2 separate regions of the Homo sapiens genome follow, and region 2 is linked to region 1. Evidence: fine-mapped expression QTL. Tissue or cell type: subcutaneous fat. Region 1 holds a variant in brackets; the other region holds the start of a gene. All regions are shown on one strand. Distances are from middle to middle.

Region 1 (8,000 bases):
TCCTCCCCCGCTTCCCCCGACCTTCCTCGGCTGCCTCCTCGGCTGCCCAGAACCAATGGGTTAATTAGATAACGGAGCCTTTGATTAGCGGGGGAGGGGGAGGCCTCCCCCAGGCGGCGCAGGGAAGGGAGGCTGAGGAGGAGGGAGGAGAGGCGCCCTCCCCGTTCAGAAGGAGAGAAAGAAGGAGGGAGGGGTGGGGAGGGAGGGAGCTGAGGCACAGCTTGGCTCTGCACTGCCGTGTGACTAGAAATTGTAATCGCGGAGAAAGAGAGAGACAGACAGAGCCGGGGAGAAAGGGACCAAGACAGACGGACAGACAGACAACCTGACTGAGACGGGCTCAGGGCCGATGAGAGGGTGACAGGGATAGAGCAAGAGGGAGGAATAGATGGAGGAGAAGGAGAGAAGGGGCCTGGGGGTCCCGAGGGAGGCAAGATTGTGAGGGGGGAGACTCAGGAGGGGGTTGAGGCCAGAGGAGGTGGACGGGGACCAGAGGCGGAGGGGGAGGACCGAGAGGGGCAGAGAGAGAGTTAAGGGGGCTGGGGTCGGTGGGTGGAGAGAAAGGAGGCTGCGGTCGGGGGAGAGTCGAGGTAGAGGTGGGAGAGGGGGTGGAAGGAGACCGGAGGAGGCGAGCGGGGAGGGGAGCAGAGAACTGCTGCAGTGGCCAAAGGACAGCCCCCCCCAGGGGTGGGAAGGGCGACAGGCCAGTGGGGGGGGCGCGGGGAGACCCAAGAAGCCCCTGCGCCCCCCCCAGCACGATCTCGACAGGAAGCCCTGGAGAACTGGGGAGGCAGAGACCCCGGCTGGCCGGAGGCATGTGGAGGGGGGGGCCTGGGCGCAGGGAGAGGCCCAGCGGAAGCCAAGCCACCAGGGTGAGTGTCCCCCACCGTGGGGTTGTGGGGAGAAAAGGATGGGAGATGGCGGAGGGCGGCGGGGGGAAGGGGAGGGAGGCCGAGTCGCTGCAGAAGCCGTGATGGGGGTGGGGGGATGCGGGCTGGCAGCGGGAGAGCTGGGGACAGATGCGGAGGTAGACATGGCAGCGGCAGGCCTGGAGGCCGGGGTGGGTGCCGTGGGCTCCCACAGGCCCTGCGGGGTCCCCCGGCCTCAAATCCAGGCCCTGCGCTTTGGGCCAGCCCTTTGGCTAAGAGGGTGTGGGCTGGATCATCGCCAGGGTCTTAAGAGGTAGGAGCCCCTGACCCAGGATAAGGACTGGGCATTGACCTCCCTGTTCACATTCAGGAAAATGAAGACCCTCACCGCACTCACATAGTCAGACACAGACACACGGCCCCAGCCCTGCAGGAGAAAAATGAGCCCGGGTGGACACAGAATCAACCTCTCTCTCTTTCTCTCCCCAGCTCCCTCTTTCCCCTGCCCTCTGTCTCTCTGCCTCTGCTTCTGTCTCTGTCTCTCTGTGTCTCTGTCTAGCCCTCGCTCTCACACATGCACTCAGATACACAGACGTATGCACACACATTTTTATCTGGGTTAAAATGGTCTTGGAAACTGCAGGAGGAGGGAGTGACTGTGTGTGTGCATAGCCGTGTGCCTGGGGGTGAGCCTGTGTCGGGGGTCCTGAGAGTCCACCGTGAGAGGGGGGTCCTGAGAGTCCACCGTGAGAGGGTGTGCCCCATCACTGCTGAGTGTGTGAGTGGGTCGGTGTGCGTGTTTGTGTGACCTGCCCTCCTCCTGGTCTCTTGGGAATGGTTTGGGGTTGGCCTGTGTTGGGGCAGGGCCTGCTGGTGTGGGTGTATTTGTGTGTACTCAGAGATGCTGCGTGCAAAGGAGAGCTGGGAGCCAGAGGGTAGACCCAGGGCCGAAGTACCCCCTCTGCGCCCTCCCGGCCTGCTCTGTGCCCTTGGACAGGCCGTTTTCCCTCATAGTGCCTCAGTGTCCCCATCTGTAAATTGGGCATCCTAATAGCTTTCTCCTATGGTCATTATGAGGCTCACATGAGATGACCGGGATACAGTTTGCTGCATTGCAAGGGCTCACCCAGTGTTCCGGAGAGACTATTGTTACTGGTATCGTTGCTGTGACTCACCCATCCCCTTTCCCTCTCTGGTTCCATGGAAATGGCGGGGCAGGACAGATTGGGGAGGTACAGCGTGACTTCTCAGAGGGCCCGAGTCCCCGCTGTCTGCTTTCCTCCCAGAACCCAGGCAGAGTCCCTGGACCCCCTTCCCTTCCCCATCCCCTCCCCGAGAACCAAGCTCGGTCCTGCGGCAGCAGCTGGCATGAGTCCCATCGGGGCTGTCTCTGCCTGGAGCACCCACAGTCTCGGGGCAAAGGAGGGGGTGCAGCTGGTGGCCTCTCGGCCTGTGCCGCCCCCCGTCAGGTCCCCAGCCACCCTCACACACAAGCTCCAGTCTCCTCCCTCTTCACCCTGCTGCCTCCCAGCCCTCCCTTCACCTGCCCACACCTGTCACCTCCACGGTTGCCTTGTCTGCCACCTTACCTCTCTCTCCCTCAGATTCTCCCATGAGTCTGACTCAAGTCTCTGAAGCTGCTGTGAGGCCCCCACAGGGCCTGGACAGGGTGGGCAGTGACAGGAGGGTGTGCAGCGGAGGGTCTTTCGGTTTAGCTGAGGGCACAGGGGGTGGGGGAAATGCATCTCTTCGCTAACATCCCTGGGATGGGGAGAGGGGGAGGGAGTGGAGGGGAGAGGAGGCTGGGACCCACCTCCCAGGTGATCACGCAGGTGGCAAGGGGACCGGGCGGGTGTTGGGATGGGAGCGAGGTCCTCGCCACCTCGCTTGCTCTTCCCCGTTTCTGCCCCCTCGCCTTGTCTGTCTGTCTGTCTGTCTCACTCCTCTGATGTATCTACCTTTTTGAAGTCATGCAAAGAACTGGGTTTTGAATCTGGACAACTTCTGCACTTACTGGATGAGTGACCTTGGGCAGGCACTTCCTCTCCCCCAGCCTCAGTTTTCCCTGCTGCAGAATGGGCGTAGAATCTTGCCAGCATGGAGAGGATGAGCTAGTGCAGGGCCAGGCGGGCCAAGCTTCCCTCTGCCTGCCCCAGCCTGCTGGGTGGGTCCATCGGCAGCTGTCTCCCTCCCTGTCCCTTTGTTCTGGGCATGGGGCAGGGAGGCGGCGATGGGGCTGCCTGGGTGTTGGCAAGCACCCAGGCCACATGGGCTCCTGTCCCTCACCAAGCCTCTCCCCCTTCTCTCCCCCACCCACAGCCCCCCAGCGTCCACGCGGAGCATGAACATTGAGGATGGCGCGTGCCCGCGGCTCCCCGTGCCCCCCGCTGCCGCCCGGTAGGATGTCCTGGCCCCACGGGGCATTGCTCTTCCTCTGGCTCTTCTCCCCACCCCTGGGGGCCGGTGGAGGTGGAGTGGCCGTGACGTCTGCCGCCGGAGGGGGCTCCCCGCCGGCCACCTCCTGCCCCGTGGCCTGCTCCTGCAGCAACCAGGCCAGCCGGGTGATCTGCACACGGAGAGACCTGGCCGAGGTCCCAGCCAGCATCCCGGTCAACACGCGGTACCTGAACCTGCAAGAGAACGGCATCCAGGTATGCGGGGCCAGCGGGCAGAGGGGGACCTTGGAGGGGACACTGGGGAGGCATGCAGATGTAGCCCATCCCTTCTGGGCCTCCCCACACCGGGGCTTCCCCGTCTCCGGCACCTGTGGATGTGGCCTGCGGGTCTGCATCCTATCAGCTGGAGCCGGGCTCCCGAGGTGGAGTGGAGGCCCTCCGGGCTTTGAGAGCACAGTGCTCCCTGTCTCTGAGCCACCGTGTCGGGGCCCAAGTGCAGGCCACCTGCCCAGCCCCCCCGGCACAGGACAGGCGGGTCGGCCTAGGCCGAGCCCTGGAGTCCCTGGGGTGTGGAGAGCAACCCTTTCACAGGGACCCCTGTGGCATCTGCACCACCACACCCTCTCGTGGCCTTGGGAAGGTGACGGCATGATTCTGAGCCTCAGTTTCTTCATCTGAAAAGCGGGGACAATGCAAGCCCCTGCGTTGAGGTGTTGCTGTGAGGGCTGATGGGTCTGGTACTTATTGGGGCGTTAGCTTGTGTGCTGGCACCTGGCGAGTGGTCAGAGGACAGGAGGCGTTTCCATGGTCATTTGCCGGGCAGTGCAGGGTTTGCGTCCCCATTTCCTGGAGCTGGTGTGAGAATTGGAGAGCAGAGAGGCTGAGAACGCTGTGGTGCTTGGCGCCATGGTGGCCTGTGGCTGGTGCTCAGGATGGGGCAGCTGCCACTCAATTAATGATGACTCTGATTAGGATAGGCCGTAAGCGAGGGCTTGGGGGGACAGAGCTGTGCTATTAGAAAGCAGGGCTTCTCAACCTCTGCCCTATTGACATTTGGGGCCTGCCCTATCATCCTTTGGCGGGCAGGGTGGGGGGCTCTGTCCTGTGTGCTGTAGGATGTTTACCAGCATTTCCGGCCACTAGATGCCAGTAGCACCCCACCCCCAGTTCCAAAAATATCTCCAGGCATTGCCAGTGATTCCCAGGGGATCATTACCCCAGGCTGATTTGGTCCAACTCCTGCCTCCAAGCAAGCCTCCTCCTGTTCCAGCCTGTAAAGCTGGGAGAGAAGAGGGTGCCGATGCCAGAGGTCCCAGCCCCTCCAGATCTAATCTTCCAGATGTAACAGCTCCCGTAAGAAATGCGGCTGCTTTTCTGCCTGGTCTGTCCCTGGGAAAGGGTGGGAGGACTTGGCTGCTCCCATCTGACCATCCTGAGAGCCAGATTCAGGGAAGAAAAGGGACCTCTCAGGG[GA/A]GCAGTCCCTTCCTGGTGGCTGTGGGGCAAGGGCCAGCGAAGGGGTCCAGAAACGTCAGGGGCGTCGTCACATCACCACCCCCCGCTCCCGCAGGGCCTTGTCCCTCTGTCCACGCCCACCTCCCACAGGCTCCCATGTCTGCCAGTTTGCTTTGAGTCTGCCCTGCATCTCCCTAGTTGCAGTCTCCACCGATCCATCCACATCTCCCTTGAGCAGGTGACATTCCGCACTGTGCGGTCCCCATGCACCTGCCCCCGGCTTCCCTGCACTCCATCCTTCCCCCACTTATACACGTGACGTTCAACAGACACCGGCAGCACCGGCTCTGCACCAAGCCCTGTCCTGGGTGGTGACCGAGCCAGGCAAAGCCCAGCCCTAGCCCCGGCAGCTCACATTCTAGTGGGGAAGAAATGAGGAGGAAAAGGAGCCAGTGGCTGGGACGGCACGCCAGGGAAACGCGCTTTGCAGAAATGGCCAGGGAGAGCGTGGGACAGGGAGGCACCCACGCCACTCACCAGCAGCCCCAGGCCGTGGCAACATCCCCGTCGTAGAACCTGGACCCGTTTCTCTTTGTGGGGGGGCGAGGGGGCTCAGTGAACAATTCAGTCCCACAAACGTGCTGAGCGCCACCAGCGGACGTACATTCATTTATGATAAGTCATGCACAGGCCCGCTCCCTCCGTATATCATGCACCTGGTAAAGCACACACCCAAGGTGGACATTGTCAAAGGGTGAAAAGCATCAATAGGGATCCAGACGCCTCTATTTCTCATCCTCCCCACCCAGGGGTTCTTGCACCGCCCCCTGCCCCACCCAGAGACATGGATGGAGGGTGTGTTCGTCCAGTCCACGAGAGTGGATGCTTGTGAGTGTTTGTCAGTGGGCTTGGCCTCCCTCAGTGGACACATCCCAGACAGCAAGAGGCATGGACCACGTCGAGGGTAATCAGAGGCTCTTTATTTTTGTATTTATTTATTTATTTATTTTGAGACAGAGTCTCGCTCTGTCTCCCAGGCTGGAGTGCAGTGGCGCAACGTTGGCTCATTGTAACCTCCACCTCCCGGGTTCAAGCGAGTCTTCCGCCTCAGTCTCTTGAGTAGCTGGGATTACAGGCGCCTGCTGCCACGCTCAGCAAATTTTTATATTTTTAGTAGAGACGAGGTTTCACCAGGTTGGCCAGGCTGGTCTCGAACTCCTGACCTCAGGTGATCCACCCGCCTCGGCCTCCCAAAGTGCTGGGATTACAGGCGTGAGCCACCACGCCTGGCCCAGAGGCTCTTTAAAAAGTAATAACTTTTAGCCTGGCGCGGTGACTCATGCCTGTAATCCCAGCACTTTGGGAGACTGAGGCAGGTGGATTGCTTGAGCCCAGGAGTTCAAGACCAGCCTGAGCCACACAGCAAATCCCCATCTCCACTAAAAAACCAAAAATTAGCCAGGTATGGTGGCATGAGCCTGTGGTCCCAGCTACTTAAGAGGCTGAGGTGGGAGGCTTGCTTGAGACCAGGAGGCAGAGGTTGCAGTGAGCTGAGATTTCACCACTGCACTCCATCCTGGGCAACAGAGAGACCCTGTCTTAAAAAAAAAAAAAAAAAAAAAAGTAATAACTCTTTAGTTATCCAAATAAAAAATTGAAAAAATCACCCTAGTTCCATCACCAGATATAAATAACTACTGTTTACATTTTGTTCTAATGCCTTCCTGGCTCTTTCCTGTCTCTATGTAAATGGTTTCATTTTTAGAGACAGGGTCTCACTCTGTCATTCAGGCTGGAGTGCAGTGGGACTATCATGGCTCCCTGCAGCCTTAACTTCCCTGGCTCAAGTGATCCTCCTGCCTCAGCCTCCAGAGTAGCTGGGACTACTGGGAGACACCATCACACCCAGCTAATTCTTTTTTTTTTTTTTTTTTTTGAGATGGAGTTTCACTCTTGTTACCCAGGCTGGAGTGCAATGGCGTGATCTCGGCTCACCGCAACCTCCACCTCCTGGGTTCAAGTGATTCTCCTGCCTCAGCCTTCTTGAGTAGCTGGGATTACAGGCATGTGCCACCACGCCCGGCTAATTTTGTATTTTTAGTAGAGACAGGGTTTCTCCATGTTGGTCAGGCTAGACTCGAACTCCCGACCTCAGATGATCTGCCCGCCTCGGACTCCCAAAGTGCCAGGATTACAGGCGTGAGCCACCAAGCCTGACCTTTTTTTTTTTTTGAGATGGAGTCTTCGCTCTGTTGCCCAGGCTGGAGTGCAGTGGTACGATCTTGGCTCACTGCAAGCTCCGCCTCCTGGGTTCACACCATTCTCCCGCCTCAGCCTCCTGAGTAGCTGGGATTACAGGCGCCACCCACCACGTCCGGCTAATTTTTTGTATTTTTAGTAGAGACAGGGTTTCACCGTGTTAGCCAGGATGGTCTCGATTTTTTTTCTTTTTTATGAAGACAGGGTCTCACTATGTTTCCCAGGCTGGTCTTGAACTCCTGGACCCAAGCAATTCACCCACCTTGGCCTCCCAAAGTGCTGGGATTACAGGTATAAACCACCTAACCCAGCCATAAGTGTATTTTTAATTACTTATTACAGAATGAATATAAATTAATTGAGAAAAACTAGAAAATATACCTAAGTAAAAACAGGAAGACAGAAGCCAACCATAATCCCACAGCCATGGGTAGCTCTCCTTCGCTTTGGTGTCTTTGCATTCGGACACCCTCCCCACCCATGCACAGTGTGTTGCACAATTGCTGCTGATTTGTAAATGGAGTTTTAGCTTTTTTATTTTTTTATTTTTATTTATATTTTTATTTATTTTTTTTTTTTGAGACGGAGTCTCGCTCTGTCGCCCAGGCTGGAGTGCAGTGGCGTGATCTCGGCTCACTGCAAGCTCCGCCTCCCGGGTTCACGCCATTCTCCTGCCTCAGCCTCCCAAGTAGCTGGGACTACAGGTGCCCGCCACCACACCCAGCTAATTTTTTTGTATTTTTAGTAGAGATGAGGTTTCACTGTGTTAGCCAGGATGGTCTTGATCTCCTGACTTCGTGATCTGCCCGCCTCGGCCTCCCAAAGTGCTGGGATTACAGGCATGAGCCACTGCGCCCGGCCTATTTTTTATTTTTTTTGAGATGGAGTTTTGCTTTTGTTGCCCAAGCTGGAGTGCAATGGTGCAATCTCAGCTCACTGCAACCTCTGCCTCCCGCGTTCAAGCAATTCTACCGCCTCAGCCTCCCAAGTAGCTGGGATTACAGGCGCACACCACCACGCCCAG
Region 2 (8,000 bases), 19 kb before region 1:
TGCTCAGGACAGTCACCTGAGTGGGAGATTAGAGTTAAGCCTTAGGGCAAGGTTTAGGGGACAGTGGGAAGCGTTAAGATTTGGTTTTGTGTTTGAGCCAAACCTGGGGCCGCATCCTCATCTTTTTCCACTCTGCTTCTCTTCTTCCTCCACGCCACACCTATCTGGCTCCCATCTCTCAAACGGGCCCGGCTTGCTGCCATCTGGGGGCCTCTGCCCCAGGTGCTTGCCCCTGTGCACGCAATGAGCTATCTCCTTATTTTGGCCTCGCCACAAAAGACACCTCCTCCAGGAGGCCTCCCCTGATCACCTCAAGTCTGTCCTCCTGACCGCCCACCAACTTCTCTCCTCCCTAATTGTCCTCTTATTTTCTTCATTGCTCACACTGCTCTTGGAAATAGGACCTTGAGGGGTCAGTTCCACGGGGACAGGGGCTGTCTCCTTACTGTTCTCCGGCCGGGCTCTCAAAGCCCTGAACAGTGCCCGGTGCTGAAGACCCTTGATGAGCTCTGGAGGTTGACGGCAAATCATTTCTCCTTCAGTAAAACAGGGGCAGTCATACCCTCCAGGCAGGGCTGAGACTTAGGCTGCATGGACCAAGAGGGTTCGCTGGTTGTTCAAATATTGGAATACTTCCCTGCTTCTCTAACGGCCCCACCTGACACGGCTTGGCCTCTCACCTGAGACCCTCTTGGTTTGTTTTTTGAGACTGAGTTTCGCTCTGTCACCCAGGCTGGAGTGCAATAACGTGATCTCGGCTCACTGCAACCTCTGGAGGCCTCCCGAGTTCAAGTGATTCTCGTGCCTCAGCCTCCCGAGTAGCTGGGATTACAGGCGCGCACCACCATGCCTGGCTAATTTTTGTATTTTTAGTAGAGATGGGGTTTCACCATGTTGGCCAGGCTGGTCTCGAACTCCCGACCTCAAGTGATCCTCCCGCCTCGGCCTCACAAAGTGCTGGGATTACAGGTGCGAGCCACCATGCCCGGCCGAGACCCTCTTGTAATGAAAGGGTTAACTCAGGGCTCATCAGGGGCCTGCTCTCACCTGTGCCCACCAGGTACCACCATCCCTAGGAGTTGGTACCGCATGGTTGCAGGATTGATGCCACGCTTGTGAGGTGCTGGGCACAGCATCTGGCCTGTGGGAGACCAGGAGGAACCGCGGGCTGCCACCATGTGATTCTGTTTTGCTGGTATCACCATCGGTCCTGGCCTACTCTGTGCTGGACCCTGGTGCACACACACATTCACTGGTCCAGTCTCACGAACTAGACTTGAGCGGCGCCAGGGGCGGGTGAAACCCGAAGCACCACAGCCACCTGCCACTCCCTGGCCCTCGCCCAGCCCCTTCTCAGTTTCCCCTCTCGGCAGCTCTCAGGGCTCAGCACCCACCAGCGCCCACCCAAAACCGCCTCTTCCGAACCCATCTGTGACCTGGCTTCTCTCGGGAACCCTGGCTCATTATAGATGTGTCTGGCCCACTTTCCTTCCAGCTTCCAACCCTGACTCTCCCCAGGCTCTGCCTGCAGGGGTACAGCCACACTTTCCCTCCCTGGGGCTCTCCGAGGAGAAGGGGAAGAGGGAGAGTCTGTCCCGGGTCCCCTGGCACTGAAAGAAGGAACCTTCATCTTTCTTCTCTCTCTCCTGAGTCCTCAGTTATTAGTCAGCGTTTTGGGGGATAACAAGGCAGGGGTGAAACTTCTGTGCTAATTTTAACATCTGGAAGGATCTTCAGTGTCCTGGACAGGGGCCACCCCTCCTTCTGGGTTTCTCCGCCCCTGATTCCCGATGTCCCCCTTCCTTGGGGCCCAAGCTTTTGGGGTAGTGGACCGGGGAGGTAGAGGGGAGGGTCACGGTGACCTCCCAGAGGCCTCTGCATCTGCCCTCCCCCTCCCTGCACCCAAGATGCAGCTCAGCTTCACAGCTCTAAATGCGTCCCCAGCACCCGCTGCCAACACCTGGGGGAGGTGAGAGGAGAGTGAGTAGGGAGGCTGCAGGCTGTGCCCTCTGCCCCTCCCAGGTGCCTCCACCTGCCAAGTCTGGACCAGGGACGAAAGCTAGGAACTGACCCATTCTCCATCTCCCTCAGGGTACCCCCAGCCCAAGACTGCATTCAAACCCCATCCTGGCTCCTCCAAGAGCTCAGTGGTCTCTTCTGGAAAATGGGTTTGAAGGTTCTTCTCTTCATGAGGTGGAGGGGCGGACGAAGCGGGCATACAGCGGAGTTCAAGAAAGGCCCTCTGTCCCCTCCCCCACTCTGTCTACTCCCCGGGCTCTTGCCACCCAGTCTTGGGCCCTCAAAGCTCCAGCTCCCCAGCTTCTCTCCTCTCCCCCGAGATCTTTCTCCTCCCCCCTCCCCCCGACGGGTCCTTCCCTCCCTCTTCCATCCTCTCATCTCTGTCCCACTTAGATCCTCCTGCCTCTTCCGGGTCCTGCCAGCTTCCCCTGCTCTTCCTGACAACGCACACCGCACCCCCCATTCTTCTCCCCACAGCCCCCGCCGCCCTCCAGGCCCCTCTGTCCCCTGCAGCCCTCAAAGTTAGGCCTTCCCTACCTCCTCTTTCCCCTCACTTCCCTGCCCCTGGGCCTCTCCTGCCCATCTCTCTACCCATCTCCCCCTCCACTCCTCCTCTCCCTCCTTTCCTCTTCCTCTACCCACTCCCCCTGCCCCCCGCCCTCCCCTCCCCTTCATCCAGGACCTTATTGCAGGAGTTACCCCCTCCTCTCCCCTCCCCTCCCACACCCTCTCCCCTTTCCCTCCTCTCTCCCCTGCTCCTCCCCTTTTTCTCCCCCTCTTCTTTCTTCCACCCCCTTCCCACTTCCTTCCTTCTTTCCTCCCCTTCCCTCTTCTTTCCTCCCCCCCTTCCCCTTCCCTCCCGTCTCCCTCTCCTTTCTTCCCTCCCTCTCCCATCCTCTCCGGTTCTTCCCCCCTCTTTCCTTCCTCCCTCTCCACGCTGCCCTCCCTCCCCTCCCTCTCTCCCCCCTTCCTCTCCTCCCGGGCCTCCCTCCCTGCTCCCTCCCTCCGCCCGCCCGCTCCCACCATCATCAGTATTCCGCTCCCGTCTCCGCCGCTCTCGGCTGCTCTCGGTCGCTGCCGCACCGTCCGAGGCGGGGGCCGGGGCCGGGGCCGGGGCCTGGGGGGGGGTGGGGTGGGGGGAGAGCGGCGCCGGCGGGCCCGAGGAGGGAGGAAGGAAGGAAGGAAGGCTGGAAGGAAGGAAGCCAGGAAAGAAAGAAGGAAAGAAAGGAAGGCAAGAAGGAAGGCGGGCGGCGGGCGAGGGCGCGGGGCCGGACGGCAGGCGGGCGCGAGGCGAGGAGGCAGAGCGGCCCCCCCAGCCCCACCGCCGCCGCTGCGGAAGCCCCCTCCCCACCCAGGAGCCGGGGAGGGGGGAGAGCGCGAGAGGCTCCAGGCCCGGCCGCAGCCCCGCCCCCCGCGCCTCCCCGCAGCGGGCCTTGCACCCCAAATTCCTGAGCCTCATTGGGGGGGTCCTCCCCCCACGGGCCGGGCATGCTGCCCCCCGGAAGGAACCCCTCTCCTCGCTGTGAGTAGCCGCCAAGGGGCACGGGTCGGGGGCGGGGGCCGGAGGCGGAACCGCGGGGGGTGGGTGGGGGGCATTCGCTAATTGGGGGACAGTGGTCTTAGGCCTCCTCCGGGATGGGGGGGGATGGCAGAGGACAGGGGGCGGGGCCTAATGGGAGGCAGAAGCCGGTGGGGGAGGCGACTGGGTGGGGGTTCTCCGGGCAGGGCGAGTTCTGTGCTGTGGGGGGGGTGGTTGTCGCCGCTGCCTGGGGACAGGTTGTGGGGGGTGCGTCCGGCGGTCGCTGCGTATCCAGCTGTGGGGCTGAGGAAGTAGGCTTAGGGTGGGGGGCTCTCCGGGCGTAGGTCCGGGCCCCCCTTTCTGGGGCGGGAGTCCAGGTTCTTCCTCTCCCCATGGCCCCTCCCACCCTCCACACCGCTGCTGCTTGGGGTGGGGGGGGCACGCCAGTGATGGGGAGGGGGGAGAGGCGGGCACGGGGTTTCCTTGGTGACCGCGCCTGGCAAGAGCGGTTGCCGTGGCAACCGGGGAGAACCGGGGAGTTTGGGAAGTGAAAATGGGAAAGACGGAGGGGGTGATTGGGGAGTGAGACAACCCCCTCCCCAGTCTTCAGCCCTTCTCCCTCTGGGGTCACCCCGCCTCTCCTGGTGGGCGGCTCGGACCCCTGCCCCTCCGTCTCTCCAAGACCCCCGTTCCCTGACCCCACTAGGCTTTGGGGCCTTCTATCCTTGGGCACGTGTCTCTCCAGGACCACTGCCTCTCCCACCTCCCTCCGCCCTCCCCTCCTGGAAACCTCTCCTCCTGGAGACCCCCGCCCCCCATTTGCTGCCTCCTCCCCAGGCTTCCGACCCTCACACCTGCTCTTCTAGGACCTTCTAAGACACGGCATCTGCTCCTCAGCCTTCTCTAACCCCCATCTCTGACAATCCCCCAGATATCCCTCTCCAGACCTTCTGTCCAGGAGACCCTCACTTCAGCCGCCCTCTCCTCTAGCTCCCTCCTCCCACTCCCTCCCCGCCCCTCTTTGGGCCTTGCACCCCAGCCTCTCCCCTTTCTCCCCAACACCCCCAGTCGCCTTCTCCTTAGCCCATCACTCTCTGAAACATCCTTCTATGACCTTTCATCACCCAGAGACCCCCTCCATCGTTGTCTCCTCACCCCATAGTACTCCCCAGTCTCAGACCCCCCCAATCCTAGCTCTCTCCTTTTGGGAGCCTCTCCTTCCAACTCACCATCAATCCCGGGCTCTCAGGGTTCCCCCCATCTCTATGCCCCTGCCTCCCTGGGGTCCTGTCCTGCCAGGGGCCCAGCCAGTCTCTCTCCAGGACTCGAGTCTCCAGAGCCCAGGATGGCCTCTTGCCCACCCCTCCACCCCTTCGCCTCCTCTCTGCACCCCCATCTCCTTCCCCAGACCTCCTCACCTCTGCTCTCCTCCTAGGCGCCCTCCCCTCCTCCCTGCCCCCTCCCCGCAGCCTCTGGTGACTTTCTGTCGGGGTGGGGAATTCCCCTGGGGAGAGCCCAGCTGGGAAGGGGGAGGGGGAAGGGAGCCTCGGGGCTGCCCCTCGGCCCCCTCCCCGCCCCCCTCTCCAGCTGGGAGCTGCAGTGGCGCCTCCGCAGCGCCCCATTGCTATGCGCCTCACATCCCAAGTCCCGGCCGCGCAGCCGCCAGACAGGAACTCGGGCTCCAGGCAGCTGGGAGTAGCCGGAGCCGGCTTCCCTCCTGGTCCAGGAGCCTGAAAACTCCCGCCCCCCACCCCCGGACCGCGGCCAGGACCGCACCTCCCTCTTCCTGTAGCATCTTCCGCAGCCTTCGCCTTCTAACCTGCCTTTCCGCAGCCTCCACTTCGCCTTCCCACCTTCCTCCTCCTCCTCCTCCCTGGGGCTCCTCTCCTCCTGGCCACCGGATTGTCCAAACGCACACAGAGAAATGAGGGACAGAGAGTGAAGCCGCCGAAAGGCGGGGAGAGAGACCCAAGGAAGGGAAGAGTGGGAGCCAGGGAGGGAGGCACAGAGGGAGAGAAGGGACCCAGCCTCCGAAACACACATACAGGCAATTAGGGCATCAGCACGGAGTCACGGAGTTACTCACTTAATTTCCGAAAGAAAGAGTCGGGGAGCCGGGGACACACGCCACTCCCACCCAGAGAGCAGACACGCGGGTGAGGCAGAGACGCAGGGAGCCACAGACTCAGGGAGGGTGGGACAGACCCGCGGGGTGCCTGCTGGGGCCAGCAGGGAGCCGGGGGACACTGGCCACCAGAGTTCTGGGGGATTAGAGGCCGCTTCTGACTTGTCAGAGGGACCCCAAGTCAGCAAGTCAGCGACAGAGAGTGGGAGCGTGCGAGGAAGACACGGGGCACGTGGAGGCAAAGATTCCCCTGGCAGGTACACACACACACACACACACACACACACACACACACGAGAGCACACAGTCATTCACTGGCAGCCAGAGACCCCGATATGGAACCAGAGAGGCCCAGTTGCAGACGCAGCCCCCACACTCAGTCAGCCAGTGGTCAGGAGAGACAGGGAGCAGTCCCCAGACCTGTAGTCGTGTGTCACACAGAGACACACACAGTCCTTCGTACACAGACCTGGAGGGAGAGACAAAGGCAGGAGGCCCTTGCCTTGTGGTCCTGTGGCCTCGTGGCCTCACGCCTACGGACAGACACAAGGCAAAAGGCACGGAGGTGGCCCCAGAGCTACAGAGATGCAGCCCCAGGTGCCGCTAAGACAGTCACAGAGCTGTGCACTGTGGCGCACACACCAAACCGAGTGCCAGCGTCGGAGGCACGTGTGTGCACTGCAGGGAGGGCCAGCCCCATCCAGCAGTCACCCTTAATCCCACTCAGAGACAGCCCTGAGAGTGTTCCTCTCGCCACGGGGCTCCTCAGGGACCTCCTCGCCGTCCGAGAGGTCAGCAGAATTAAGACATCAGGTATCAGAGGGCGCTGGCATCTCTCACAAGCAGAGCCTGTGCACACATGTGCCTGCACACACACCCTCAGGGCCCATGCAGAGAGGCCGATCTTCAGGCAGAGGTGCTGTGGGTTGGGGATTGGGGGCGGGGGTGGCCGCTGAATCCTCAGTCCCTTCCGGAACCCTGGCCCTGCTTTCTTGCCAGGGTCCCCACCCCCTCAATCACCTGTCTCACCTGCTAGGACACCTGCTGTGTAGCTCACACTGGTTCTCTCTCTCCATCCTCTCTCCCTGCATTTCATCCCTTCTCACCCCACTCTCTCTGGCCGGGCATCTGTCTCGAGGTGTCACCTGGACCTCCTGTCTCTGTCAAGCCGTCTCGCCTCTCCATCTCCCCTCATCTTCCCTGGGACTGACCCTTTGCCCTCCCAGCCCCCAATGTCTTGCTGACCTGGCCCATCCGTCTAGTCTGTGGACTCATTCATCAGTCTTTCCCTCTCCCACCCCATCTGCTGTGAAACCTGCCTCTATTTCTGTCTCTGCTCGACACCGCTCTCTGTGCCTCCCTTCTTTGTCCCTCTGTGTCACTCGCCCTCACCTCTGCTGCTGTTCCTGCCAGCCTGTCTGCCTCCCCGCCTCCCCTGCTCCTTCCCCGTGGCTCCCTCTCCCCACATCCCTGAGGACTCACTTACCTGGGGTCCTCCGGGCGGCCCAAGAGGGTTATTTTCCCCCAGTGCTTTCAACATGTTTAATTTGTTGCCAACATTTTTTAAATTAGAGATTTTGCATAAAAATCTAGACTGTCAGCTTTTGGAATCGTCTTCCCCCTGGATAACTGTGGGTTGTGCTCAGGTGCAAAGGGCCACCACTCCCCACTCTCCCCTCTAACCAGCATCGGGATCATCTTCCCTGCTGGGCTCCATAGACAGAGGAGTTTGCAACCTCTGCTGTTTGCTCCTCTTCCTCTCTGCTCCATCTCTTTGTGCCCTGTCACCCTCTCCACTCTCCTTCCCTTGGTTTCCCTTGCCGGGTCCTCTCTCTGCCCCTCCTCCTTCATCCCCCCATCAGTTTGCCCTAACTCCAAGCCTCACTTTGACTGGGCCCTGTTTCCACTTAAATGGCCTCCTTCCCTTGCCGAGAGCAGGAAGAGTCTTATCCTTCTCTGGGAGAAGTGGTTCTTAAGACTGCCAGGACGCAGAGCACACGCCCATTCTCCAGGACCAGGATCTGCTGTGAAACTGCCAGCCCCTCACAGTGTTGGAAAGTCAGCGTTGCGTGAAGGCACCATGTTGCAGCCTGTCCTTCTCAGCTGGCTGATGGCTGGGGTGGGCCACAGACCCCACACTCTTGTCCCCAGCATGTGGCATCACAGCCCGTAGGCAGGGGGTGGGCTTCTCTGTACACCAGGCTGCACATTTGGCCCCAGAGCAGGTGGAGAGCAGGGGCTGCCTTAGAGGACCTGGGATGCGGACGCTGTTTCTGGAGGGAGGGCCTCACCTCCAGATAGGGGTGCAAAGGACAGGGCTCCCCTCTGTGCCTGGCA

The links. PIP is the estimated chance that this variant, and not a neighbour inherited with it, causes the effect.
Region 2: LRRC4B starts here. The variant in region 1 is fine-mapped to the expression of LRRC4B in subcutaneous fat (GTEx, PIP above 0.99). The same link has a PIP of 0.9 or more in thyroid and visceral fat.

Annotation. Positions count from the first base shown.
Region 1 is chr19:50,544,062-50,552,061 of GRCh38, reverse strand. LRRC4B (leucine rich repeat containing 4B) reads left to right here. Exons shown (of 3, transcript NM_001080457.2): 2 at 3,189-3,520. The coding sequence starts at 3,224. Among named protein-coding and RNA genes, the nearest start is that of LRRC4B, 20 kb to the left of the region's middle. RefSeq lists an enhancer at 1-300. The variant GA/A (reference allele first, on the strand shown) is at 4,738.
Region 2 is chr19:50,563,485-50,571,484 of GRCh38, reverse strand. LRRC4B (leucine rich repeat containing 4B) reads left to right here and starts at 3,050. Exons shown (of 3, transcript NM_001080457.2): 1 at 3,050-3,541.